7 linked regions of the Homo sapiens genome follow. The protein of the gene in region 4 purifies or fractionates together with the protein of the main gene of each other region. This does not show direct contact. Each region holds a gene or a part of one and is shown on either strand. Other genes may lie near its edges.

What was found.
Region 1: the proteins of KDR (region 4) and ZSCAN21 purify together in Homo sapiens (affinity purification with mass spectrometry, with the first as the bait; one large-scale study listed by BioGRID). This does not show direct contact.
Region 2: the proteins of KDR (region 4) and PLXNA1 purify together in Homo sapiens (affinity purification with western blotting, with the first as the bait; one study listed by BioGRID). This does not show direct contact.
Region 3: the proteins of KDR (region 4) and NCOA4 purify together in Homo sapiens (affinity purification with mass spectrometry, with the first as the bait; one large-scale study listed by BioGRID). This does not show direct contact.
Region 5: the proteins of KDR (region 4) and SCUBE2 purify together in Homo sapiens (affinity purification with western blotting; one study listed by BioGRID). This does not show direct contact.
Region 6: the proteins of KDR (region 4) and CDH5 purify together in Homo sapiens (affinity purification with western blotting; 3 studies listed by BioGRID and IntAct, with this or other methods). This does not show direct contact.
Region 7: the proteins of KDR (region 4) and ANTXR1 purify together in Homo sapiens (co-immunoprecipitation; one study listed by IntAct). This does not show direct contact.

Annotation. Positions count from the first base shown.
Region 1 is NC_000007.14:100,062,657-100,065,540, reverse strand, and holds the end of ZSCAN21 (zinc finger and SCAN domain-containing protein 21), read right to left. Parts: intron 1,754-2,884; coding exon 924-1,753; coding exon of another isoform or gene 890-923; 3' UTR 754-889; coding exon of another isoform or gene 629-753; 3' UTR 501-628; downstream 1-500. UniProt on the Homo sapiens protein: Strong transcriptional activator. Plays an important role in spermatogenesis; essential for the progression of meiotic prophase I in spermatocytes.
Region 2 is NC_000003.12:126,989,615-126,993,114, forward strand, and holds part of PLXNA1 (plexin-A1 precursor), read left to right. Parts: coding exon 1-173; intron 174-1,769; coding exon 1,770-1,952; intron 1,953-3,500. UniProt on the Homo sapiens protein: Coreceptor for SEMA3A, SEMA3C, SEMA3F and SEMA6D. Necessary for signaling by class 3 semaphorins and subsequent remodeling of the cytoskeleton. Plays a role in axon guidance, invasive growth and cell migration.
Region 3 is NC_000010.11:46,006,624-46,010,123, forward strand, and holds part of NCOA4 (nuclear receptor coactivator 4), read right to left. Parts: intron 2,929-3,500; coding exon 2,788-2,928; intron 2,590-2,787; coding exon of another isoform or gene 2,524-2,589; exon of another isoform or gene 2,501-2,523; intron 1-2,500. UniProt on the Homo sapiens protein: Cargo receptor for the autophagic turnover of the iron-binding ferritin complex, playing a central role in iron homeostasis. Acts as an adapter for delivery of ferritin to lysosomes and autophagic degradation of ferritin, a process named ferritinophagy.
Region 4 is NC_000004.12:55,101,596-55,105,095, reverse strand, and holds part of KDR (vascular endothelial growth factor receptor 2 precursor), read left to right. Parts: intron 1-111; coding exon 112-453; intron 454-2,587; coding exon 2,588-2,734; intron 2,735-3,067; coding exon 3,068-3,199; intron 3,200-3,500. UniProt on the Homo sapiens protein: Tyrosine-protein kinase that acts as a cell-surface receptor for VEGFA, VEGFC and VEGFD. Plays an essential role in the regulation of angiogenesis, vascular development, vascular permeability, and embryonic hematopoiesis.
Region 5 is NC_000011.10:9,085,100-9,088,599, reverse strand, and holds part of SCUBE2 (signal peptide, CUB and EGF-like domain-containing protein 2 isoform 4 precursor), read left to right. Parts: intron 1-3,500. UniProt on the Homo sapiens protein: Lipid-binding protein required for SHH long-range signaling by binding to the dually lipid-modified SHH (ShhNp) and by promoting ShhNp mobilization, solubilization and release from the cell membrane.
Region 6 is NC_000016.10:66,397,691-66,401,190, forward strand, and holds part of CDH5 (cadherin-5 preproprotein), read left to right. Parts: intron 1-291; coding exon 292-416; intron 417-765; coding exon 766-871; intron 872-3,080; coding exon 3,081-3,326; intron 3,327-3,500. UniProt on the Homo sapiens protein: Cadherins are calcium-dependent cell adhesion proteins. They preferentially interact with themselves in a homophilic manner in connecting cells; cadherins may thus contribute to the sorting of heterogeneous cell types.
Region 7 is NC_000002.12:69,180,679-69,184,178, reverse strand, and holds part of ANTXR1 (anthrax toxin receptor 1 isoform 1 precursor), read right to left. Parts: intron 2,394-3,500; coding exon 2,298-2,393; intron 1,687-2,297; coding exon 1,519-1,686; intron 1-1,518. UniProt on the Homo sapiens protein: Plays a role in cell attachment and migration. Interacts with extracellular matrix proteins and with the actin cytoskeleton and thereby plays an important role in normal extracellular matrix (ECM) homeostasis.

The sequences.
Region 1 (2,884 bases), on a different chromosome or scaffold from region 4:
GGTTGTTTGCCACAAACTCATCCACAACAGCTGTGCCGGCACAGTTCAACATGGCCCCTGGCTCTTGGTATGCAGTTATTATCTAGTGAAAGCATTCGCTTTATTTTTTTTTTTTTTGAGACAGAGTCTCGTTCTGTCACCCAGGCTGGAGTGCAGTGGCGCAATGTTGGCTCACTGCAACCTCTGCCTCCCGGGTTCAAGCGATTCTCCCACCTCAGCCTCCCGAGTGGCTTGGACTACAGGCACCCGCCACTATGCTCAGCTAATTGTATCTTTAGTAGAGACAGTGTTTCGCCATTTTGGCCAGACTGGTCTCGAACTCCTGACCTGAGGTGATCGACCGCCTCAGGCTTCCAAGGTGCTGGGATTACAGGCGTAAGCCACCGTGCCTGACCCCCAAATCCAAATTTTCTAAAAGCTAAACCAGTAGGAATAGTTTTCTCCATCTGTAAGTATTCAATAACCAACACATCATTTGTTATAATAATAGTCCTGAGGCATTACAAGATGTTATAAGTTTATTCTGAATCTCATTCAATTGTGTTCAATGTGGCTCAATTCTTTACAAATTAAAATTCTTGAATATATGTTAAAAATTAAACAATCTTAATGTTTCTTCCTTAACTAGACTGGATACACGTCTGTTTAACTACGCAAAAGGTAATGCTGGCATGGCTTACTGGGACCCTAAGTGTGGCGAAGGGACTCTGCTCCAGTGAACTGGCGAGTGTGGAACCTCCTGACACCTTCTGAGGACCTCCTGCCTGCCATGTTGCTGTGGAGCTCGCACTCCTCAGGCATCCCCTGATGTTGAGTGATACAAACTCTATCACCGGAATCGATGCTGCTGCAATGACAAGACTTCTTTCTGGTTTTCAGATTCTAAAGTTTAAAACAACGACAACAACAGGAGCGCTTGAAAGTTACGGTGCTTCTCCCTCTCCAGTGTGGACTCGCTGATGTTTGGAAAGATTGGACTTGCTACAGAAGGTCTTTCCACAGTGATGACACCAGTAGGGCTTTTCCCCGGTGTGGATTCTGTGGTGTTTATTGAAGTTGGAGCTGTGGTTGAAGGCTTTCCCACACTCCTTACACTTATATGGCTTCTCTCCGGTGTGGAGTCTCTGGTGGGAGCTGAGGCCCGCATGCTGACTGAAGCTCTTCCCACATTCGTTACACTGATAAGGCTTCTCCCCAGTGTGGATCCGATAGTGACGAATGAGGCTGCCTTTCCCGCTGAAAGCCTTGCCACAATCTTTGCACTGATATGGCGCCTCTTCTGTGTGCATTCTCTGATGTTTAAGAAGGTCTGAGCTCTGCCCAAAAGCTTTTCCACACTTACAGTCATAGGGCCGGTCCACCAAGTGTGTTCTGTAGTGGAGGGTGAGGTTTGAGCTGTGGCTGAAAGCTTTCCCACACTTGGTGCACACGTAAGGTTTCTCCCCAGTGTGTGTTCTCCTGTGTTTGGTGAGATTTGAGCTATTACTAAAGGCTTTGCCACATTCAGCACATATATAACGTCTCTCTCCTGGGGTAGGTTTAGTAGGAACTGATTCTCTACCTTTCTTGGAGCCTGCCTCTTGAAGAGGGGGTTTTGTTCCTTTTTCATTTTCAAGGTTTACGCACTGCCTCTCTAAGCTGGCCTCAGGTTTATTGGCGATAATCACAGAAATTATATCCCCTTTGAGCCCCTCTGCTTCAGAACCTTTCTGCTCATCTGCTGATTCCTCGTGCTGGGTACTCAATCTGCAATCTGAAACAATAAGCAGATTAAGGATACTTCAGTTGTTTCTTGTTCTGAGGAAGAAACTGTTACCAGAGAGATAGAACCATCAGGTGAGACTGATGGTTTCTGAAGGGTGACTAAACAGAGCTCATGATAGCGCATAGATACAAGTAAATCAGCATCCAATCTAGTTTACAATACTGCACTTCTTTTTTTTTTTGAGATGGAGTCTCGCTGTCAGCAGGCTGGAATGCAGGTGACCTCAGCTCACTGCAACCTCCAACTCCCTGATTCAAGCGATTCTCCTGCCTCAGCCTCCAGAGTAGCTGGAATTACAGGCACGTGCCACCACACCCAGCTATTTTTTGTATTTTTTTTTAGTAGAGATGGGGTTTCAACATGCTGGCCAGGATGGTCTTGATCTCCTGACCTCAGGTGATCCGCCTGCCTCAGCCTCCCAGAGTGCTGGGATTATAGGCATGAGCCACCAGGCCTGGCCTCCATACCACACTTTCACACAATTCCCCACCCGAAGCTATTAAGATGTGAAGAGAACGTGGCTTTTTCTGCCAGAAAAACAGCTTCACATACAGAAGGCAAAATGCAGCATATGAGAGTGGTAGCCGGGCACAGCGGCTCACGCCTGTAATCCCAGCACTTTGGGAGCTGAGGCGGGAGGATGGCTTGAGTCTGGGAGTTCAAGACCAGCTTGGGCAACATAGGGAGACCCCATTTCTACAAAAAGTTAAAATAAAAAAATTAGGTGGGCATGGTGTGCCCCTGTGGTCCCAGCTACTTGGGAGACTGAATAAGAGGATCACTTAAGCCTGGAAGGTCAAGGCTGCAATGGGTCAAGACTGCAGTGAGCCATGATTGTGCTGGCCTGGGCAACAGAGTGAGACCCTATCTTTAAAAAAATATTTATTTTATTTATTTATTTTGAGACGGAGTCTCATTCTGTTGCCCAGGCTGGAGTGCAGTGGTATCATCTTGGCTCACCGCAGTCTCCGCTCCTGGGTTCAAGTGATTCTCCTGACTCAGCCTCCCGAAGAGCTGGGACTAGAAGCACCTGGCACCACGCCCAGCTAATTTTTGTATTTTTAATAGAGATGGGGTTTCACCATGTTGGCTAGGCTGGTCTCAAACTCCTGACATCAG
Region 2 (3,500 bases), on a different chromosome or scaffold from region 4:
TCGCCCAGGGCCAGAAGAACCGCGTGAAGCCACCAAAGGAGTCAGCACTGTGCCTGTTCACGCTCAGGGCCATCAAGGAGAAGATTAAGGAGCGCATCCAGTCCTGCTACCGTGGTGAGGGCAAGCTCTCCCTGCCGTGGCTGCTCAACAAGGAGCTGGGCTGCATCAACTCGGTGAGTTGGGCAGGGGCGCCCCTCCTCCCGCGGCCCCATCCCCTCCAGGGACGACGGCATCGGTGTCAGATGCACGCCCAGTGGTGCCTGCTGTGTGCCTGGCCTGGCTTTTGGCTTGGCCATCCCCATGGCTCAGCTAGGTGGGGCTGCCCTTTTCCATCCCCCAGAGAGTGGGTTTGGACCCAGGGTGCTAGCCCCAAAGGCTGCTCCCAGCCATGATGCTGTCTTGTGCCTCAGAAGATGGGGTGACGAGGCCCTGCTGGCATAGTCCACAGCCCCTGTGGGACACTGGACAGAGTGCCAGCCACATGCCTGGTCCTACACCTGGTGCTTGCCTGCTCCATCTTGTCCCCATCCTACAAATGAGGTTATAGGATCAGAGAGGTGGGGTAACTTGCCCTGGGTCACACAGCAAGTGAGAGGCTGGTGCCAGAGCCTATCAGGTGAGCCCAGACACCATTTCCATGGAGCGCTTGTGTCCCCCACATGACCCTGGTGGCACCTGCCCGCTGGGCCTCTGCTTTTGCCCAGCAATGGGAGCTGATGGTGTCCTGGTGCAGGCCACAGTTAACAACTTGCAGAGAAAGTGACCCTGACTGCAGGGAGCCACAGCCCCCAGCACCCATCAGAAGGCACAGCTGGGGTGGGGCCTCTATCTCGCTGCCTTTCAGGGAGTGTCTTGTTCACACTCCTGGGCAGGCTCAGAGGGCACGGGCCTTGCTTAGGGTGGAAAGTGAAGGGGCTGGGACTCGGCCCAGACCTGGGACCCCCGAGGCCAGGCCTTCTGGGCTTGCTGCTGGGGGTCGCTGGCCATCGCAGGGGAAGGCCTCGCCCTCTCTGGCTGTAGTCTCCCATGTCTGACCTGAGGGTGTTGCTGGTTTTGTCCTCAGGGCAGAGTGGGACTGCAAGGGCCCCTCAGTCCTTCCGTCTCACGCTCACTGCCTGTGTGAGGCAGGGCCCATGTGTGCTTGGCAGATGCGGTTGTCCACCCTCCCCTTGGCTTTTCAAGGAACGTGTTTTCTCTGCACCATACAGATGGAGACACTGAGGCTTGTAGGGGCAGAGCCTGGGTGAAGCCCCACCACACTCTCTCTTTGTGCCCTGCCCCAAGGCTGGGGCCTGCTCTTTCATCCCTGGGGACAGTCCCCACTGCCCCCTCCCACCTGTTCATTCCATGTGGCCTAGCCCTGGCCCAGCCTCCCCTGCTCCTTCCTCCTGAGCAGCCTGGCCCCTGCCAATGAACCCTCTGCAGACAAGGACCATCTGCCCCACTTCTCCCCACATCCCTTCCCTGCCTGCCCTGCCCTCTCCTTAGGCCTGGCGGTGGAGCAGCGCCCCCTCCACACTGGCCCCCAGCTGCTCCGGAACCTCAAGCTATTGATTGCTTTCTCGTGCTCTTAGCTGGGAGCCCGCCCTCTGCCTTTCAGGTGTGATCTGCTCCCTCCTGTCTTAAACCCTCTCTGTCTGCACCTCTCCTCTGGGGGCTACCCCCAACCTCTCTAGAAAGACAACTGCACTCCCAGCCCTGCCCAGGGAGGCCCAGTCCTCCGGGAGAAGGTGCCCGGGGAGTGGCTCTCACCCTGCCCCTTCCCACAGCCCCTGCAGATCGATGACGACTTCTGCGGGCAGGACTTCAACCAGCCCCTGGGGGGCACAGTCACCATTGAGGGGACGCCCCTGTTCGTGGACAAGGATGATGGCCTGACCGCCGTGGCTGCCTATGACTATCGGGGCCGCACTGTGGTATTCGCCGGCACGCGAAGTGGCCGCATCCGCAAGGTCAGGCCTGGGTGGGGTGGGGTGAGGAGGGGGCTTGGGGCAGGAACAAAGGCTTGCGGCCGTCCCAGGTGGCAGGCCCAGTGCTGCTGTATGCTGTGGGAGGCTAGATCTGGCGTACAGGGGGCAGGGGGAATGTTGCCCTACACTAGGCCCAGTGACCTTGAAGGGCCCCACTCCCCTCTGTGCCTCTGCCCATGACTGGCCCCAGGCCCACTAAGCAAGGACACTTTGAGACCACGCAGGAGCCTGTGCAGGGGCCCAGGGATGCTGAGGCGGGGGCTGGCTCTCCAAGGGCACTTGACCTCCTGGGGAGGCTGCTGTGTGTGGGTGGTGAGGGCAGGCCTGCGCGGCCCCCTCCCCTCTGGGCCCTGCTCCCCAGCCAGGAGATCCAGTGTCTGCTGCCTCAGCACTCTGCCGGGCCAGAGGCCTTGGCCCTGCCTCTCCCCAGCCCCTCTACTGGGCCAAGGGCAGGGCAAGGGTAGTGCCCCTGCCTGTCTTTGGCTGGTGCTTGAGGAGCTCCAGCACACAGCCCTGGGCTGGCCCCACGGTGGCAGGGGGAGGGCTAGGTGCTACAGGGATGGCTGTCTGGTCTTCAGGGTTCTCCTTTCCTTCCCCAGAACAGTGGGCTGGACAGAGGCAGTGCAGAGCTTCCTGGAGGGTGTGGGTGGAGGGGAGCTGCCTGGGCTGGGGTGGGCACCAGGCTGGCCTGGTGTGGAGGAAGCTCCCGGAGAGACTGAAGGGTGGGGATACTTGGACACCCCAGAGGCCCAGTGGGCAGTGGTGGGTCCTGGGGTGCATAACCGGCACCAGAGGCTGGTGCCGATGCAGCTCCCCTGAGCCCATGTGTGCCCGCGAGTGGGGCTGGGCCGGGGGCTGGCCAGGGCTTGCAGCTCTCAGCCCGGTGCCCAGTGTTAGGAAGGGGGCCTCCCATCTCTGCCATGGTAGTTGCCCTGGGAGTGGTGGGGAGTCCTGCCCCTCCCTGGCTCTGTGATCTCTGGGAGGGGATCCCCTGCAGCCTCAGCTTCCCTCTGTGAAATAAGCCAGATGTTCAGGCTCTGGGCTGGGGGCGGGGGGTGCTGGTGGTCTTGGGGCCCGTGGGGGCCCAGCTGCTGATTGTAGGCCCCCCAGGGTGGGGGTGCCCTGGGGTCCTGCTGGTTCTGCTCATAGTGGCTATGAGGCTGAAGCTGATGGGGAAAGTCCTGTGACCCCTGAGTTGGGTCCTCTGCTGTGACTTCCCTCTTGGCCCCCATGTGGGGTACCGCCCTGTGGCTCTGGTGCGAGGCCCCTCCCGTCCTCTCAGCCTGCACTCCCTCTCCTCACACTGGAAGGCACACAGGGCTCTCGAGCGCATGGGGTGGGTGTTGGAGTGGGTTTTGCCAGACAGAGGACCGTGCTTGTGTGGAAGCCCAGTGCAGCAGCTTAGAGACATTTTGTGGGGCGCCCCAGAGCCTGTTACCCAGCCAGTGACCAGGTTCCTCTAGCCCTACCCTGTTCCTGCTGCCCAGCACTCACCCTCTTGTGCCCCAGGGGCACCGTTTGGGTCAGAGC
Region 3 (3,500 bases), on a different chromosome or scaffold from region 4:
AGTTACTTCAATGAAGAATAAAAGCAAATTTTCCCTGCCTTAAAGCTCCGACTCATTTCCCAATACAGGTATACCCTTGTTACATTGTATTTTTTACAAATTAAGCATTTGTGTCATGAACTATGCCCATTAAAGATGGTAAACTTTTCATCAATAAATGTCCTGAATGCCCACCAAACAGCCTTTCCCTATTTCTCTTCTCTCTCCTCAGGCCTCCCTGTTCCCTGAGACAAAACAAGATTGAAATTAGGCCAATTATTAACCCTACAATTGCATCTAAGTGTTCAACTAAAAGGAATAGTCCCCATCTCTCACTCTTCTTTAAATCAAAAGCCAGAAATGATTAAACTTAGCGAGAAAGTCATGTTGAAGGCCACGAGAGGCTGAAAGCTGGGCAGGCCTTTTGGACCAGCCAAGCTGTGAGCACAAAAGCAAAGTTTTTTGTTGTTTTTCAGCTTCTCATTCTCTGGCTGAAAAGTTCTTGAAAAAAACTAGAGGTGCTACTCCAGTGAACAGATGAATAATTTAAAAAGCAAACAGCCTTATTTCTGATATGGAGAAAGTTTTAGTGGTCTCTATAGGAGATCAAACTAGCCACAACATTCCCTTAGGCCAAAGCGTAACCCCAGAGTAAGGCCCTAATTCTCTTCAATTTTATGAAGGCTGAGAGAGGTCAGGAACCAGAAGTCATGTTTGAAGCTAGCAGTGGTTGGTTCATGAGGTTTAAGGAAAGAAGCCATCTCCATAGCAAAAATGCAAGGTGAAGTAGCAAGTTATCCAGAATATCTAGCCAAGATCGTAAATGAAGTTGGCTACACTCAACATTTTCAGTGCAGACAAAACAACTTCCTATTGGAAGAAGTAGTCATCTAGAACTGATAGCTAGAGAGATAAGTGAATGCCTGGCTTCAAAGGACAGATGGACTCTCTTGTTAGGGACTAACACAGCCAGTGACTCTTTTTTTTTTTTTTTTTTTTTTTTTTTTTGAGACAGGGTCTCCCTCTGTCAACCAGGCAAGACCGCAGCAGAGCTATTATAGCACACTGCAGCCTTGACCTCCCAGACACAAGATTCTCCCACCTCAGCCTCCTGAGTAGCTGGGACTATAGCACGCTCCACCATACCCAGCTAATTTGTTAATTTTTGTACAGACAGGGTCTCTGTATGTTGCCCAGGCTGGTGTTAAACTCCTTGGCTCAAGCAATCTTCCTACCTCTGCCTCCCAAAGTGCTGGAATTGCAGGCCTGAGCCACTGCACCTGGCCACTGGTGGCTAAGTTGAAGCCAGTGCTTCAATCCTAGAGCCCTTGAGAATTATGCTAAATCTACTCTGCCTGTGCTCTAGAAATGGAACAACAAAGCTTGGATGACAGCGCACCTGTTCACAGCATGGTTTACTGAATATTTTAAGCCCTCTGTTGAGAACTACTGCTCAGAAAAAAACATTCCTTTCAAAATACTACACCCATTGACAGTGCACTTGGTCACCCAAAAGCTCTGATGGAGATGCAGAAGGAGATTAATGTTTTCATGTTTGCTAATAAAACATCCATTCTGCAGCCTATGGATCAAAGAGTAATTTCAACTTTCAAGTATTATTTAAGAAATACATTTTTTAAGGCCCTAGCTACCTAGGTTCCTCTGATAGATCTGGGCAAAGTAAACTGAAAACCTGGAAAGGATTCACCATTCTGGGTGCCACTAAGATCATTCATGATTCATGAGAGGAAGTCAAAATATCAACATTAACAGGAGTTTGGAAGAAACGGATTCCCACCCTCATGGATGGCTTGGAGGAACTCAGGACTTCAGTGGAGGAAGTAACTGCAGATGTGGTGGAAACAGCAAGAGAAGTAGAATTAGAAGTGGAGCCTGAATATGTGACTGAATTGCTGCAATCTCATGATCAAACTTAAACGGATGAGCAGTTGCTTCTTACGGATGAGCAAAGAAAGTGATTTCTTGAGATAGAATCTACTCCTGGAGAAGATGCTGTGTATTGTTGAAGTGACAACAAAGGATTTAGAATATTAAATAAACTTAGTGGATAAAGCAGCAACATGGTTTGACTCCAATTTTGAAAGTTCTACTGTGGATAAAATGCTATCACACAGCATCACATGTTAGAAATATTTCGTGAAAGGAAAAGTCAATCGATGCAGCAAACTTCATTATCTTATTTAAAGAAACTGACAGAGCCATCCCAACCTTCAAGCAGCTACCATCCTAATCAGTCAGCAGTAATCAACATCAAGGCAAGAACCTCCAACAGCAAAACGATTATGTGTTAATGGCTCAGATGACCATCAGCATTTTGTAGTAATAAAATACTTTTTAATTGAGGTATGTACATTGGTTTCTTCTTAAGACATAATGTTATTGCAGACTTAACTATAGTGTATTATATACAACTTTTATATGCAATGGGAAACCAAAGTATTTGTGTAGCTCTCTTTATTGGGATATTTGCTTTATTGCAGTGGCCTGGAACCAAACCCACCTTCGAGGTAGGTATATAAACTACTAGAATCCACATGGGATCTGAAAATTCCCAACGGTTACATCTTGAAAGTTCATTTTGAAGTATGCCTAGTTAGTTAATAAAGCAAATTCAATTAAAATACATCAACTTTTTATGAGCTCCCCCGTCCCACCCTCACTTGCCTAATATACATACTATTAAAAGGGATATGGTTCAGTGAGCCAAGTATGACTTCATATGTAAGACAAAACATTTATTTTATAAATAGCTATAATCTAATTTTCATGCTGGTGGCATGTACCCACCTGTAGAGGAGTTCGATATAACCACTTCTCTTTATCAACTTTAAGCTGCATACAGGCAAAGAGATCACAAACTGCAGGGAGGCCATAATGGTCTGGGGGGAAGTTATGTTCCTCCTGTAGAGGTGAATTAAGTAATACTTCCTGCAATAAAAGAAAAGAGTAGGTTGCTTCATGAAAACAAGGAGGCATGAGACCAACTTATCTTCCAAATAGGGTCTACAGAGAATAATTTAAATGTTGGCCATTCTCTGTAACAACCAAAAACAAAGGTGACAATTGTTATTTCTACCCCAAATATTTTCCATAAATAGCAATAAAACAGGCTAGATTCTTTTCTTTCCTGAAGGATGGGGCTTAGGCCTGGAAAATGCACAAAAAAATCATAAATCCTCCATTCCAAATTTAGTATTTAACATATTTAAGGATCTGGCTGGCCGGTTTGCAAGGTTTGGGATTATGAAATATGAAACTCTAGGCTGGGTGTGGTGGATCACGCCTGTAATCCCAGCAGTTTAGGAGACCAAGACGGGCAGATCGCTTAAGCTCAGGAGTTCAGAGACCAGCCCAGGCCAAAACCCCATCTCTACCAAAAATACAAAAAATTAGCCAGGCATGGTGGTGCACACCTATGGTCCCAGCTACTCAGGAGGCTGTAGTGCGGGCAGGGGGATGGCTGGAGCCTCGGAAGGGGAGGTTGCAATGAGCTGAGATCG
Region 4 (3,500 bases):
GGATAGAGCTTCATTTCTTTTGGTACTTTGTAGTAGTCTGAAAGCAGCAAGATGATAGTGAGCTGTACCAAGTTAAATCACCATTCAATAACTATGGCCTCTTCATTTTAGGGGGTCCTGAAATTACTTTGCAACCTGACATGCAGCCCACTGAGCAGGAGAGCGTGTCTTTGTGGTGCACTGCAGACAGATCTACGTTTGAGAACCTCACATGGTACAAGCTTGGCCCACAGCCTCTGCCAATCCATGTGGGAGAGTTGCCCACACCTGTTTGCAAGAACTTGGATACTCTTTGGAAATTGAATGCCACCATGTTCTCTAATAGCACAAATGACATTTTGATCATGGAGCTTAAGAATGCATCCTTGCAGGACCAAGGAGACTATGTCTGCCTTGCTCAAGACAGGAAGACCAAGAAAAGACATTGCGTGGTCAGGCAGCTCACAGTCCTAGGTAGGGAGACAATTCTGGATCATTGTGCAGAGGCAGTTGGAATGCCTTAAATGTAGTGCAATTCAGGTGCTATGCAAAGATTACTGTCCTCTAGGAGATTATGTTGTAAACTGGTGCACACTTCTTCACCGAAAGTCCTTGAGGAAGAAAGAAGCTAATAATAATGAAATGATATATCGAAAGGAGAAAATAACAAAACCTGATGATGGAGTAATTCACTAGTATATGCAAGGGATATTAGCTTGAACCAGGGAAACTTCTGCCTTATCTTGGGCATCCATTTATTTAAATAGACAAATATTTGTGGAATGCCTGCTATGAGCTAGGAGAGTGTCAGAAATTCACAGTGGTAAACATGAAGGAAAGGAGGAGAACATAGGCAACCACTGGGAAGTCACAGCACAGTGAGGTCTCTGTGTCCATGAGAACAGGAATTGTTCTCTGTTTTGCTCCCTGCTATAGCTCTAGTCATAGAGCATAGCAGCATATACTAACTGCTCAATAAGGCACCTGCTGCATGAAGAGTGGGATGATGGGCTGCGTTTAAGACCTAGAAGACTCCATGGGAAGGAAGCTACATTCACTGTCTGTACCTCTGGGTCATCCCACATGATCCAGCGTAGCCCAAGGTCAATGGGACGATCACTTCAGTGAGCAGATAGCTCTGTAAATTCCTCCATAGAGGCACTGTCTACCCCTTGTCTAACCTCATGCCTTGTGCAAAAGCTGGGCAGCCATGGCTTTGTCTGTGGGAAAATCAGGCAAATTTGGGGAGCGTCTCTTTGTGCCACTTCTCTCCATTTTCTCCTCTTGTGGTGTCCCTTTCCAATTCCTAGGATATATGTGCCCTCTGTTTTTTTTTTACTGTTAGGAAGGAAATTGCCCAAGTAAATTCATCTATACCACAGTTTTAGAGGGTAACGTCTTCATCAGAGGCCTTGGCGTATTTGAAGAGGCACCTTCTGACAGACACTAGCATAAAGTTCGCTAGTTTTAAGACTCAGGTGTCATAATAAGAGATACTTTGGGGTCAAGTCATCCCCAGCATCCTTCAAGTCACACCACATAGATCACATGGATTTTCTGTTGGCTTGTCTGGCTTCAAGGTTATGGCAGAATTGAGAAAGAGATGTGAAGTAGGCTCCTGGCCTAGCTGTGCCCAGAAAATATGTGCTCGCAGTTAGCTGCTTTGCTTCCCTAAGGACTCCTAACTTGTTTTCCTAAAACCTATTCTTAGAAATAGGCTAGAATCCAGTACATTTGCTTAGACTTCAATGTAGTACGCTGTTGAGGTAATCTCATTTTGCTAAGTGTTGACGTGGATTTTTTCAGCATGATTCCTTTTGATGTTCAGTTGGTTGGGACAAGATATTTCCACAGCACTTTGATGATCTGAAGAAAGAATAAATCTAAAGTGTTCTTGTACACTTAAACAAATACTCATGGGCTTCATTTTCTTTAAATCCAAGACTTCCCTTAGGGTATTGTTGTTTTGTTTGTGTTTTAGTGGAAATAGCACTGAACTGGTCTTTTAGCCTCACCAGATTCTGTAAACAGTTCAACTGTTTACTTAGTTGCAGGGACATGGACAAGTGGTTTAATGTCGCTGAACATCATTTATTTCATCTGTGAGATAACGCTAACAGTCCTATTCTGCTCATTACATAAGATCACTAGTGAGGAACACAAATTGTGTAAACAAGTTTTATAAGAATTGCCAAATAAATGTAAGGCATTATTGGTTGAATGATACTAAAATTTGGCACTTCCAAGAGAAATTTGAAGGGATTCTAGGGTATTATTGACTAGAATCTTCATGGGAGGGAAGTTTTCACCTGGGGAGGCTGTGTCTAATTAGAGGAAAAATCCATAAAGGTGACCCTGAACCTTTCTTTTGTGATGGGATTACCAGCTAGTATCACTAATATGAATGTTAAAAGCCATTAATCTGTTTGCAGTGTCCTGACTGACTTGTTTCATTTAACTTTACCCAGTGACCAGTGTATTTTCCCAGAAGTTAATATATCAACAAGTTCCTTTTTACTAAATTTAAACTGTTTAAAAGTTTGCTGATACCAGAACCATTTCAAAAGTTATAATTCCATGTTCTGTGATTTTCTTTTTGTGTGTCTAGAGCGTGTGGCACCCACGATCACAGGAAACCTGGAGAATCAGACGACAAGTATTGGGGAAAGCATCGAAGTCTCATGCACGGCATCTGGGAATCCCCCTCCACAGATCATGTGGTTTAAAGATAATGAGACCCTTGTAGAAGACTCAGGTAAATAGAATTTGGCTATCACTCTTGGGTTGCAGAACTTTCCCAGGGATGTTATCTAAAAAGCCATATTATTTCTTGATGTAATGTAGAAAAAAAGCAGTATTGGTGTCCATGACCTGGCTCATTTCACAGACTTAGAATTGGAGTATGGGGCCCTGTTGAATTTTCATGAAAGCCATATAGGAGATTAGTCAGCAGTAGATCCCATGTGACTCTACAGAGTTAGATAATAGAACAAGATGAAGGGCAGCATTTATATTTTCTAAATTTCCCTGAAAAACTTCACAGACTACATCATCATAAATGAGAATGATCGTTTTCTTCCTCTGTTAGGCATTGTATTGAAGGATGGGAACCGGAACCTCACTATCCGCAGAGTGAGGAAGGAGGACGAAGGCCTCTACACCTGCCAGGCATGCAGTGTTCTTGGCTGTGCAAAAGTGGAGGCATTTTTCATAATAGAAGGTCAGTGGGATAAAAAAAAATGTGGTACATATACACCATGGAATGCTATGCAGCCGTAAAAAGGAATCTGATCATGTCCTTTGCAGCTGCATGGATGGAGCTGGAAGCCATTATCCTCAGCAAACTAACACAGGAACAGAAAACCAAACGCCACACATTCTCACTTATAAGTGGGAGCTGAACAATGTGAACACATAGACACAGGGAAGGGAACAACACACACTGGGGCCTACTGTGGGTTGGGGAGAAGGAGAGCATCAGGAAAAATAGCTAATGCATGCTGGGCTTAATACCTAGGAGA
Region 5 (3,500 bases), on a different chromosome or scaffold from region 4:
AGGATCTAAAGCTACACAATGAGTAAGAAAGTCCTTCCAAGTCTCTTTCCACTTCGAAAAACATATTAACTTCTTTAGATGAGGAGGAAAACTTTTTTGAGACAGAGCTTTGCTCTTGTTACCCAGGCTGGAGTGCAATGGCGCGATCTCAGCTCACTGAAGCCTCCTCATCCCCGGCCAGGAGTGTGAGACCAAGCAATTCTCCTGCCTCAGCCTCCCAAGTAGCTGGGATTACAGGCGCCTGCCACCATGTCCAGCTAATTTTTGTATTTTTAGGACAGACGGGGTTTCACCATGTTGGCCAGGCTGGTCTCAAACTCCTGACCTCAGGTGATCCACTGGCCTCGGCCTCCCGAAGTGTTGGGATTACAGGCATGAGCCACTATGCCCACCCAGAGGAGGAAAACTTTTAATGAGTGTCTATTCTGGTGCCATTTAATGGCCTAGTGTCCAGACCCTGATGTTTCAAACCAATCTGTTTCATACTGTGGCCTCTGAGTAATAAAGATTCTAAATATTGGAACAGTATATAATGCTCAGCAGTGCCTGGTACATGGTAGACACTGAATAGACATCCTTATTTTTGAATAAGTGATTGTGTAAGATGGGCTCAGTCTACTAGCACCTTGACACAAAGTCTTTTCCAACAAACAGACAAACCCACAAATGAAATATCTAGATACAGAATATACAGATGACCAAGTAGGTAAGTGACTGTCAGATGCTTTTGCAGTGTTGTAGCAATGACCTGATCCTCCCTATCCACCCATCTCCTTGTCTTAGCATAGCTGAGACAAGAAATGGGATCTTTACAATGAACTTTGTTACAAAGGAAGGGAAGACCAAAAGAAAATATAGACAGCAAATATGAATAACAGATGGGATTATGACGGGCAAGTTTGGATCTGGTGACACCCCTTGGGATATCATTCAGGGAGCTCCCCTTTGTGCATGAGGAGTGAGGCTCCCACCGCTCCCATTGGAGAAGGTGTGGTCCTGGTCAGGTGCATAGCAAGTGGGGTTGGTGATCCATCCATGAAGTAGCTCACGCTCTCTCTCTCTTTCTCTCTCTCTTCCCCCCTCCCCCTGCCATGTCATGGGAGGCCAAAAGGCTATCTCTCCCCAGAACATTTATCTGCTGATTCCTCCATACCACACACTTTCGGTATTAAATATTCTATTTGCTGTACTGGAATTCACACATGTTGGTACCCTGCTTTGGAAACAAATGTTCACTTCTTTACTATGTGGATAACTCACGTCCTCCAGTTGCTGTGTGCTCTCTGGTGGCACAAAACCATTCCACTGACTTTATTTAGATAAAGTACACTTTTAGTAAATGATGTTAAATGACAATTGGCAAGAGTTTCCTTACTCTTGGCTTTTGAGTTTGATATATTTCAAATGAAATTGAATTGCTAACAGTTTATAGTTGAATTGTTAAAAGTCTATTATTTAGTTTAAAATAACTAATGATTGACTGGCATTGTGCCATATATATATATAAATTTATTTTAAAATGATATGTGATTGTTATAAAAAGTCAAATAATACAAAATGTGTAAAATAAAAAATTAAAGAGCCTCCCATCCATTTATCCACAGATAGTCATGGTTAACAGTGAGCATACATCCTTTGTACTGTCGTTTGGAACTCAAACCCTAGAAGAATTTGATCTTTTGAATATTTGTAGTATTTACAATACTAGTAAGTAAGGATGTCCCTCTTTTTTTTTTTTTTTTTTTTTGAGATAGAGTCTTGCTCTGTCACCCAGGCTGGAATGCAGTGGTGCAGTCTTGGCTCACTGCAACCTCCGCCTCCCAGGTTCAAGCAATTCTCCTGCTTCAACCTCCCTAGTAGCTGGAATTACAGGCGTGCACCACCACACCCGGCTAATTTTTGTATTTTTAGTAGAGATGGGGTTTCACCATGTTGGCCAGGCTGGTCTCGAACTCCTGACCTCAGATGATCCACCCACCTTGGCCTCCCAAAGTGCTGGGATTATAGGCGTGAGCCACTGCGCCCGGCCAGGATGTCCCTCTTAGTTTGGATTTCTTGGTATAGGAGTACAGAAATGGAAATTTTCTCCCAAGAAGGAAAAGGAGAGGAAATGAGGATTGCAAGGATTCAAAGATGTAGATATACAAAGATGTAACTCCTTTATCCATTTCTTGGCCTATTAATTTTTGAGCCTCTTGGGACCAACCTATGGTATCATTTGGGTTGTGATTATTGCCAGCTTCACTACTCATATTTAAGTTCAGGGATGAGGATCAGGTTTACTCAGAGTAACTAGAATTTTATCTTCCATAAAGTTTTCTTCTGCCAAAATGTTGGAGAAATGTGTGAGCCCTGAATAAGTGGGTTTAAAAATAATGTGATTCAGACGTTGCTTTAGGTAATCTTTTATTCTAAATGATCTTTGCTTATTTGCTTATTTATTGTATGGTTCTTACTTCTCAGTTTGAGGAATTGAATTGGCTCACGCCTGTAATCCTAGCACTTTGGGCGGCTGAGGCAGGAGGATACCTTGAGCTCAAGGGTTTGAGACCAGCCTGGGCAACATAGTGAGACCTTCTCTCTACTAAAGGTCAAAATAATTAGCTGGGTGTAGTGGTGCGTGCCTATAGTACTAGCTACTCCAGAGGCTGAGGTGGGAGGATCACTTGAGCCCAGGAGGTGGAGGTTGCAGTGAGCTGTGATTGCGCCACTGCACTCCAGCCTGGGCAACAGAGCAAGACACTCTGTCTTAAAAAAAAAAAAAAAAAAAAACTAAAGAGATTGAATAAAGTTTAACAGGGATGAATCTAAAGTTGGCCTTTGTACAAGATGCTATATTTTTCTTTTCTTTTCTTTTTTAATTTTTTTATTTTTGAGACACAGTCTCGCTTTGTCACCCAGGCTGGAGTGCAGTGGCGTGATGTTGGCTTATTGCAACCTCCGCCTCCCAGGTTCAAGTTATTCTCCTTCCTCAGCCTCCCCAGTAGCTGGGACTACAGGCGCCCACCACCACGCCTGGCTAATTTTTTGTATTTTTAGCAAAGACGGGGTTTCACCGTGTTAGCCAGGATGGTCTCTATCTCCTGACCTCATGATCCGCCTGCCTTGGCCTCCCAAAGTGCTGGGATTACATGCATGAGCCACCGCACCCAGCCTATATTTTTCTTTTTAAAAAACTTTTTATTTGGACATAATTTTAAATTTCAGAAAAGTTGCAAAAATAGTGCAGAGTTCATCTGTGTATATATATGCCCTTCATTCATTTTACCCTAATGTTAACAACTTACATAACTATAGTACAATTATCAAAACCAGGAAATCAACACTGGCACAATGCTATTAAGTAAACTACAAACTTTATTCAAATTTCACCATTTTTCCCTACCATTCTTTTTTTGTTCCAGAATCCAAGTAAAGTCCCACATTAGATTTAGCAGTTGTGTCTCTTGTCTCCTCCAGTCTGTGACAGTTCCTCAGTCTTTCCTGACATTGACACTTTT
Region 6 (3,500 bases), on a different chromosome or scaffold from region 4:
ATAATTAAATTTTTAATTTTAGGAATTTAATTACAATTTTTTTAATGCACTTAGGTGGTTTACCTTTTTGATTCTCATAATCAAAGTAATACCTCAGTAAACCTTATGGATGAGATTTAACACCTCCCCCCACCAAACTCCTTTTATCCAGAACACCATCCTGGGCCTCTGTTCCACAGCCTCCTCCTGCAAAAAGTGGCCTCCATAGGGCAGCCCTCCTTCCACACATCTTCCACCGCCCAAGGCCAGCATCAGCTGAGCCCATAATGGTGACAGTCTTCTCCCCTGCAGGAACCCCCACAGGAAAAGAATCCATTGTGCAAGTCCACATTGAAGTTTTGGATGAGAATGACAATGCCCCGGAGTTTGCCAAGCCCTACCAGCCCAAAGTGTGTGAGAACGCTGTCCATGGCCAGGTGAGTCTGGTTCAGGTGGGAGGGGAAGGCAGCACCACCCTGGGGCAGGCTGGGGGGCAGAACTGCTCAACAGAGTCAGCAGGAGTTCCCCTGTACAATAGCCTTGAGGAAAATAACATTATGCCCATTTTACAGATGGAGAAACTGAGGCTCAGAGGGAATATATGGGGAGTAGATTGGCGGGGCAGGGAAGTAGAAAGAATGGCTTTATGAAGAACTAAATAGGTGAGTGTTGCAGGTGGGAAACAGCCATGGTCAGGACTTAAACCCAAAGGCTCCATCGCTAAACCTCAGACCACCCCACCACCCCACCACCATCACTGACCATCTCCTGTCTTCCACACTCCAGCTGGTCCTGCAGATCTCCGCAATAGACAAGGACATAACACCACGAAACGTGAAGTTCAAATTCATCTTGAATACTGAGAACAACTTTACCCTCACGGATAATCACGGTAGGCATCAAAGTAATCAGTTCAGCTGGGCGTGATGACCCACACCTGTAGTCTCAGCTACTCAGGAGGCTGAGGCAGGAAGATCGCTTGAGCCCAGGAGTTTGAGGCTGCAGTGAGCTATGATCACATCACTGCACTCCAGCCCGGGCGACAGAGCGAGACCCCGTCTCCAAAAAAAGAACAAATGCAGTCAGTTGGCTCTAACAGGGTCGGGGTGAGGTTATTTGAGTCTTGAGGCACCAAGGTCAAAGACCAGGCCAACAAATTGAGGGCAGGCTCCCACTGGGATTTTCAAATCATTAGATATTTTGTACAATTTCTGCCACATACATTGTACAATTGGTCTATGCAATGGTCAGAGACACTCCATCCAAACTCCCAAGTCCACGTCGCCTGCAAGGAGCCAGCGAGGAGTACAGAACAGATGTGAGGATGCAGGCAGTCAGCTCAGTTCAAGAACTAGCCAAGGAGTCCCCTCCCATACTGGAGGCTCTATGGGTCAGCAAAACTGCACATTAAACATGGAACTTTGAGGTCATTCCCAAAGAGTCAAAACTGGAAATGTGAAATCCTAAATCCCAAGGATCCAGTGAGCTTTGTTTTAATTCAGCTACAACGATTACTCACGATTAGCAGGGTGGCCCGTGTGATGGCATTAGCAGCCAATCAGAGCTTCTGAGGAGTAGGTGCTGACTTAAGTGATGATGCTGAGTTGACTTCATTCCAGCCACAAGTAGGCAAGCTTCCATGGCCTCTGAAATTTCCTCAAAAAAATAGAGAAAATTCCCCTTGGGTTTAAATAGAGTGATCCTTCACCTAGCATGGGATGGAATTCCTGCCTGTCCCTAATGGGCAAAACTATGGTGGATGAGGATGGCTGTATTGCAGCAGCCCATTACTACATTTAAGGAAGACTGGGGAGTGGGGTCCCTGAAAGTTGGAGGCAGACTTGAGGGATCAACCACAGACCAGTCCTTAAGGAGACTCCTGTGGGATGGAGAAGGTGGCCCTGATGTGTTGACAGTCAATGACAGACCATTCAACACCCAGTTGTCATTAGAAGTAAATAATGTGGCAAAAATGTCACCCCCTCCCCAATGTCCACCTCAGTCCCATCTCAGAGTGGGGATCTGCAATACAGTAGAAAGATTCAGTGCCACCCCAAAGACACCCATATACAATAGGAGGCAAGTCTGTTGGTGTCAAATTCACTTATATCATGAACATCCTGCATGTCAAAATCTCTAGTTTCTCCCATAAGTGTCAATGACATATAGTTTATTTTGAAATATAATAGACTTAATGCTGAAATGTAATTATGAATAATGAAATATAATTGGCTTTCATTCAAAATCGAAAAGATGGATTCCTGGGTTTTTCAATCCAGTGTGTGGAGCCTGTGTAGCTAAGTAAATCCTGGAGTAGGGAGTTCCTGGATCCTTCTCTGATCGTTGACATTACAACCTCCTGGGACCCTGCAAAAGGCAGATTATCTGGCCTCTGCCCAGAACCACTGAATAAGAAGTGTGTGTGAGCATAGGGGTCTGAAAATCAGCATGTTTTAAAAGCTCCCTGGGGGATTCTTGGGTACAGGAAACCACTGATTGGATCTGGGAAGGTGGGCGGGGCCAATATTTGGACAAAAGCATTTCCCAGTTCCAAACTGCCTGGGAAACCCGCAATTCTATATGTAATCATTTTCTCTGTGCCCCAAGGGACATGTCCATTGTTTTTACTGTTTTCAACAATGTAACAATGGATTTTCAGAGAGAGCAGAAGCTGCCTTAGAAATTAGCCTAATGCTAAAAGACTTTTTAAAACTTTATTTTTCCCCGCTGCTTGTCAAAGCTTGAAACGGAGCATTAATTAATTGAGCTGAAAGAGAAAACCTCCTGTTACTGGAGTGGGGTTAGGGAAGAGGAAGGGGAGAGGCATCAGTTGCCCACAAATACAGAAAGCAAAGGATTTGACCTTCTTTCACCAAGGCATCCTTGGAGATTGGGTCAAAGCAGCTGCCCCAAAATATCCCCTCTGTGGCGGAACAGACCTGCACTCAGATGGCTGAAACAAGAGGCGCTGGGTGCAAAGGGCAGAAAAGCAGCCCAGGGAGCACGCAGGCTGGTGCAGTCAGGGAGGGCTTCCTGGAGGAGCCAGGTTTCCCCATCTGTGCAGATGGCAAAGCCTGACTCCGAGGCCTTGGTGTTTCCAGATAACACGGCCAACATCACAGTCAAGTATGGGCAGTTTGACCGGGAGCATACCAAGGTCCACTTCCTACCCGTGGTCATCTCAGACAATGGGATGCCAAGTCGCACGGGCACCAGCACGCTGACCGTGGCCGTGTGCAAGTGCAACGAGCAGGGCGAGTTCACCTTCTGCGAGGATATGGCCGCCCAGGTGGGCGTGAGCATCCAGGCAGTGGTAGCCATCTTACTCTGCATCCTCACCATCACAGGTCAGTGCTGGGCAGGGTGGGGAGAAGACACAGTGGGTGGAAGGGGATGGAAGGTGTTGGGAGGCGGGGAGGCTTCACAGGAAAAGTAGAGGCCAGAGGTTCAGGCCCAACCCTGCCTCCAATCTGCAATGCAGCCCTTAGCCAGTTCATGTGCAGGATGCAGGATGTGAGCTC
Region 7 (3,500 bases), on a different chromosome or scaffold from region 4:
TTTTGATTTGTTGGAGAAGCCCTGATCCAAAATTAGCAAATTAACTCAGCGAATGATGAAAATAATCTTTGTTGCTATTGGAAGGGGGGTAAGGCTGTGTGTGTGTGTGTGTGTGAGTGTGTGTATGTGTATGGATGGTGATGGGAGCTGGCTCTATTGAGTCTTTGACTTGAGGCTTTGGAGTTGGTTCGGTTCTGTTTGCAGCTTGAAACTGGAGTCTGTAGCCCTGAGTTGGGGGCCTTGTTTTCCAGACCTCAGCAGAACAAGGACTTTGCCTATCTCAGTATGAAATCAGAGAGTGGGGACAGATTATGTCTAGAGTCTTTTCAGCTATAATTTTCCAGTGCTCTCTGACAAGTGGCATAGTGCAGATGTTTATGGGCATGGCTAAAGATTGAAGGTGTTAACTGAATCATGTGAATTCAAAGCCATTTGGACCAAGAAGAATAGAAAAGAGGCCTTCAGGCTGGGCATGGTGGCCCATGCCTGTAATCTTAGCACTTTGGGAGGCCGAGGTGGGCAGACTGCTTTATCAGGAGTGCAAGACAGGCCTGGGCAACATAGTGAAATCCGTCCCTCAAAAAAAAAAAAAAAAAAAAAAAAACAAAAATTAGCTGGGTGTGGTGGTGCGTGCCCGTAGTCCCAGCTACTTGGGGGTTGAGGTGGGAGGATGGCTTGAGCCTGGGAGGTCGAGGTTGCAGTGAGCAGAGATCACACAACTGCACTCCAGCCTGGGTGACAGAGTGAGAACCTGTCTCAAAAAATAAATAAATAGAAAATAAAAAAGAGGCCTTTAGGAAACATTAACTGCCTCCAACGGTTTACACTTCCCAATAAACCAAAGAGGATTTTAAGATCTGGAGGTGTGGGGGAAAGACAGATGGTGGAGAAAAAAGATTTGCTTACAACCAGAAAGAGTGAGTCCTAGATCCATGACCAGTGAGATTTGCTGGTGGGCCCTGATACACTGGCAGGAGGCGCAAATAAAAGGGAATGGGCTTATATTATGGCAAAAGGAGTAGAGATTAGCATTAAGGAGAAGGCTGCCATTTTTCTTAGATAGTAGATTGTCTGCTAAGTGAAGTTATGAGATGCTATGGAAATTTATAGTCACTCTCTGGGGTTACTACCCAAGTTACTTGACTCACAGTCCATGCTTTTTCCAGTACCTTGCCATGGTGATTTTTTTTTTTTTTTTAATATGGAACACTTCACGAATTTGCATGTCATCCTTGCCCAGGGGTCATGCTAATCTTCTCTATATTGTTCCAGTTTTACTATATGTGCTGCAGAAGTGAGCACCACGGTGATTTTTAAAAAGCCTAGTTTTCAACCCAGATTATGTGGAAATTGACAAAGTAATTACTAGTACTTTCAAGTCCATAATTTTAGATAATTGTTCCCCTGTGATAAGCTGGGTTTTAGGTTGGGATTTTATCATGTGGAAAGATTTTGATTCTTCACTATGTAAGTGTTTTATCAGGACTGATGATAGATTTTTTGAGTAAAGAGACACACCTTGATTGGAGAGTACCACTTCCGGGGGGAAGAAGGCCGACGCATATTGTTGTTGAGATTTCGCGGCTCAGGGAATTCATATTCCTGCTCCGGCATCTTGACTCTTGCATTCTTTGCCTTTTCCAACTTAGCACCTTCTTCTGTGGAGCCCTTTTCTCCCCAACGAACCTAAAATAAACAAAATACAATGAAATGAAATGACAAAATATGCTGCCCCTCGAGAATGAGAATGACAAATACATGCATGAGTTGCAATGTGAATGCTACCCAACCCTGGATTCCTTTGGGTTTTGAGGGCCAGGGAAGAGGGAAACTGTGGAAAAAGAGAAAAGGGGAGGACCAAAGGAGCAGAGAGCTGAGCCACATGGGTGGATATTTAGGGAGGAATTGTCCAGGCAGCGGGGACAGCACATGCAAAGACCTTGCAGGTTCAGGTACGAACTTTGGATTTTATTCCAGTGAGAAAAGAAATCACGAGGACGTTTGAGCTGATGTGTGACCTGCTCTGACTCACGGTGGGCAAGACATGGAAACGCACAGTGAAAGGCTGTCCCTCCTATCTCTCCATCCGTCTGCCTTACAATCCATATCCCCACCAGACCTCAAGGAGGTTTTCAGCAATTTGCTTTGGGTTTCTGACATTGAGTCATCAGTGTGGTCTACGGCCATACTGCCCTGGGCATGCCTGATATCTAGAGGCTAAGCAGGGTCAGGCCCGGCTGGTACCTCGATGGGAGTAGTCAGCACATAGATAAGTGTATATGAAGCTGTCCTCTTACCTCCATTCTTTTAATGCCTCCAACGCCTCTCCCACCATAATAAGAGGCGTCTACCGTTGGCCACTTTTTCTTAGGCAGACCATCATCATCTTCTTCCTGCAGAGAAATTGTGGCACATGAAGGAAGCAAAACAGCACTGCTGTGTGGACCTGCCTACTACAGCCAAGTGATTAGGAGTAGAGCTTATAGAGTCAGACTGCCTGGGTGCAATCCCAGTGCTACTGTTTCCTAGAACCTTGGGCCAATCACTGAAACCACCTAAGCTTGTTTTCCTTATCTGTAGAGTGGGAATGTAAGCAGTGCTACCTGGTAAGTTTGTGGTACAGTCCTGTTCTCTTGTTCTCTTCTACAGCTCTACTCCTTTGTGGGAATCGCATCTAACCCCACCTACATGCTAATGACTTGTGACTTTACATCTTCAGCCCTGATGCTTCTGAACTCCAACTGCTCACTTGACATTCACATTATTTGGGGGCTAAAAAACATCTCAACAACACCACAGCAGAGATGTCCTGATTTCCCTACCCTAAACATGCTCCTCCTGTAGTCTTCCCCACTGCCTCTCTCTTCTTTACTGCCTCTCCCCAACTTGTCCCAACTTGCCAGCTAGTTCTGTTGCTACTACTTAAAGATCTAAAATCTGTTGACTTCTCCATCCCCACCACCACTATCCTGGGCCCAAGCCCCCATGCACTTGCTCATGGACACTGTGGTAGCTTCCCAACTGGCCTCCTGCTGCCCTAAGACTCACCTATGATCTGTTCTCCACAAAGCAGCAGAGTAAGTGCAAACGCCAGCTCTGCCCTGTGTGTTCTGGCCTTTGCTCACCTTTCTGGCCTTCTTCCTTATCATGTGCCCCCCTCCTCCTGAGCTCCAGCCTGCCTGCCCTCTCTCAAATACTCTGGGCAAATTCCTGTCTTGGGGCCTGTGCACAGTGTCCCCTTGTCCCCTTGTCTAGGAAAGCACTTCCCCCACCCCATCTTCTGATGGATGGATTTTCATATTACTCCTCAGAGAAACCTCCCCTGGAAATTTCTTCTAAAGTAGCCGCGGTCTCTTCATTCCATCAATCTGTTTTATTTTTAGTTAAGGATCTCATCATGGCTTGATATTTACTTAATATCTGTCTCTCCACACTAGAACGTACGTTCCACAGAGGCTTTTGTTTGTCATGCTTACAATTGTATTCCCAGTCTTTAGAAT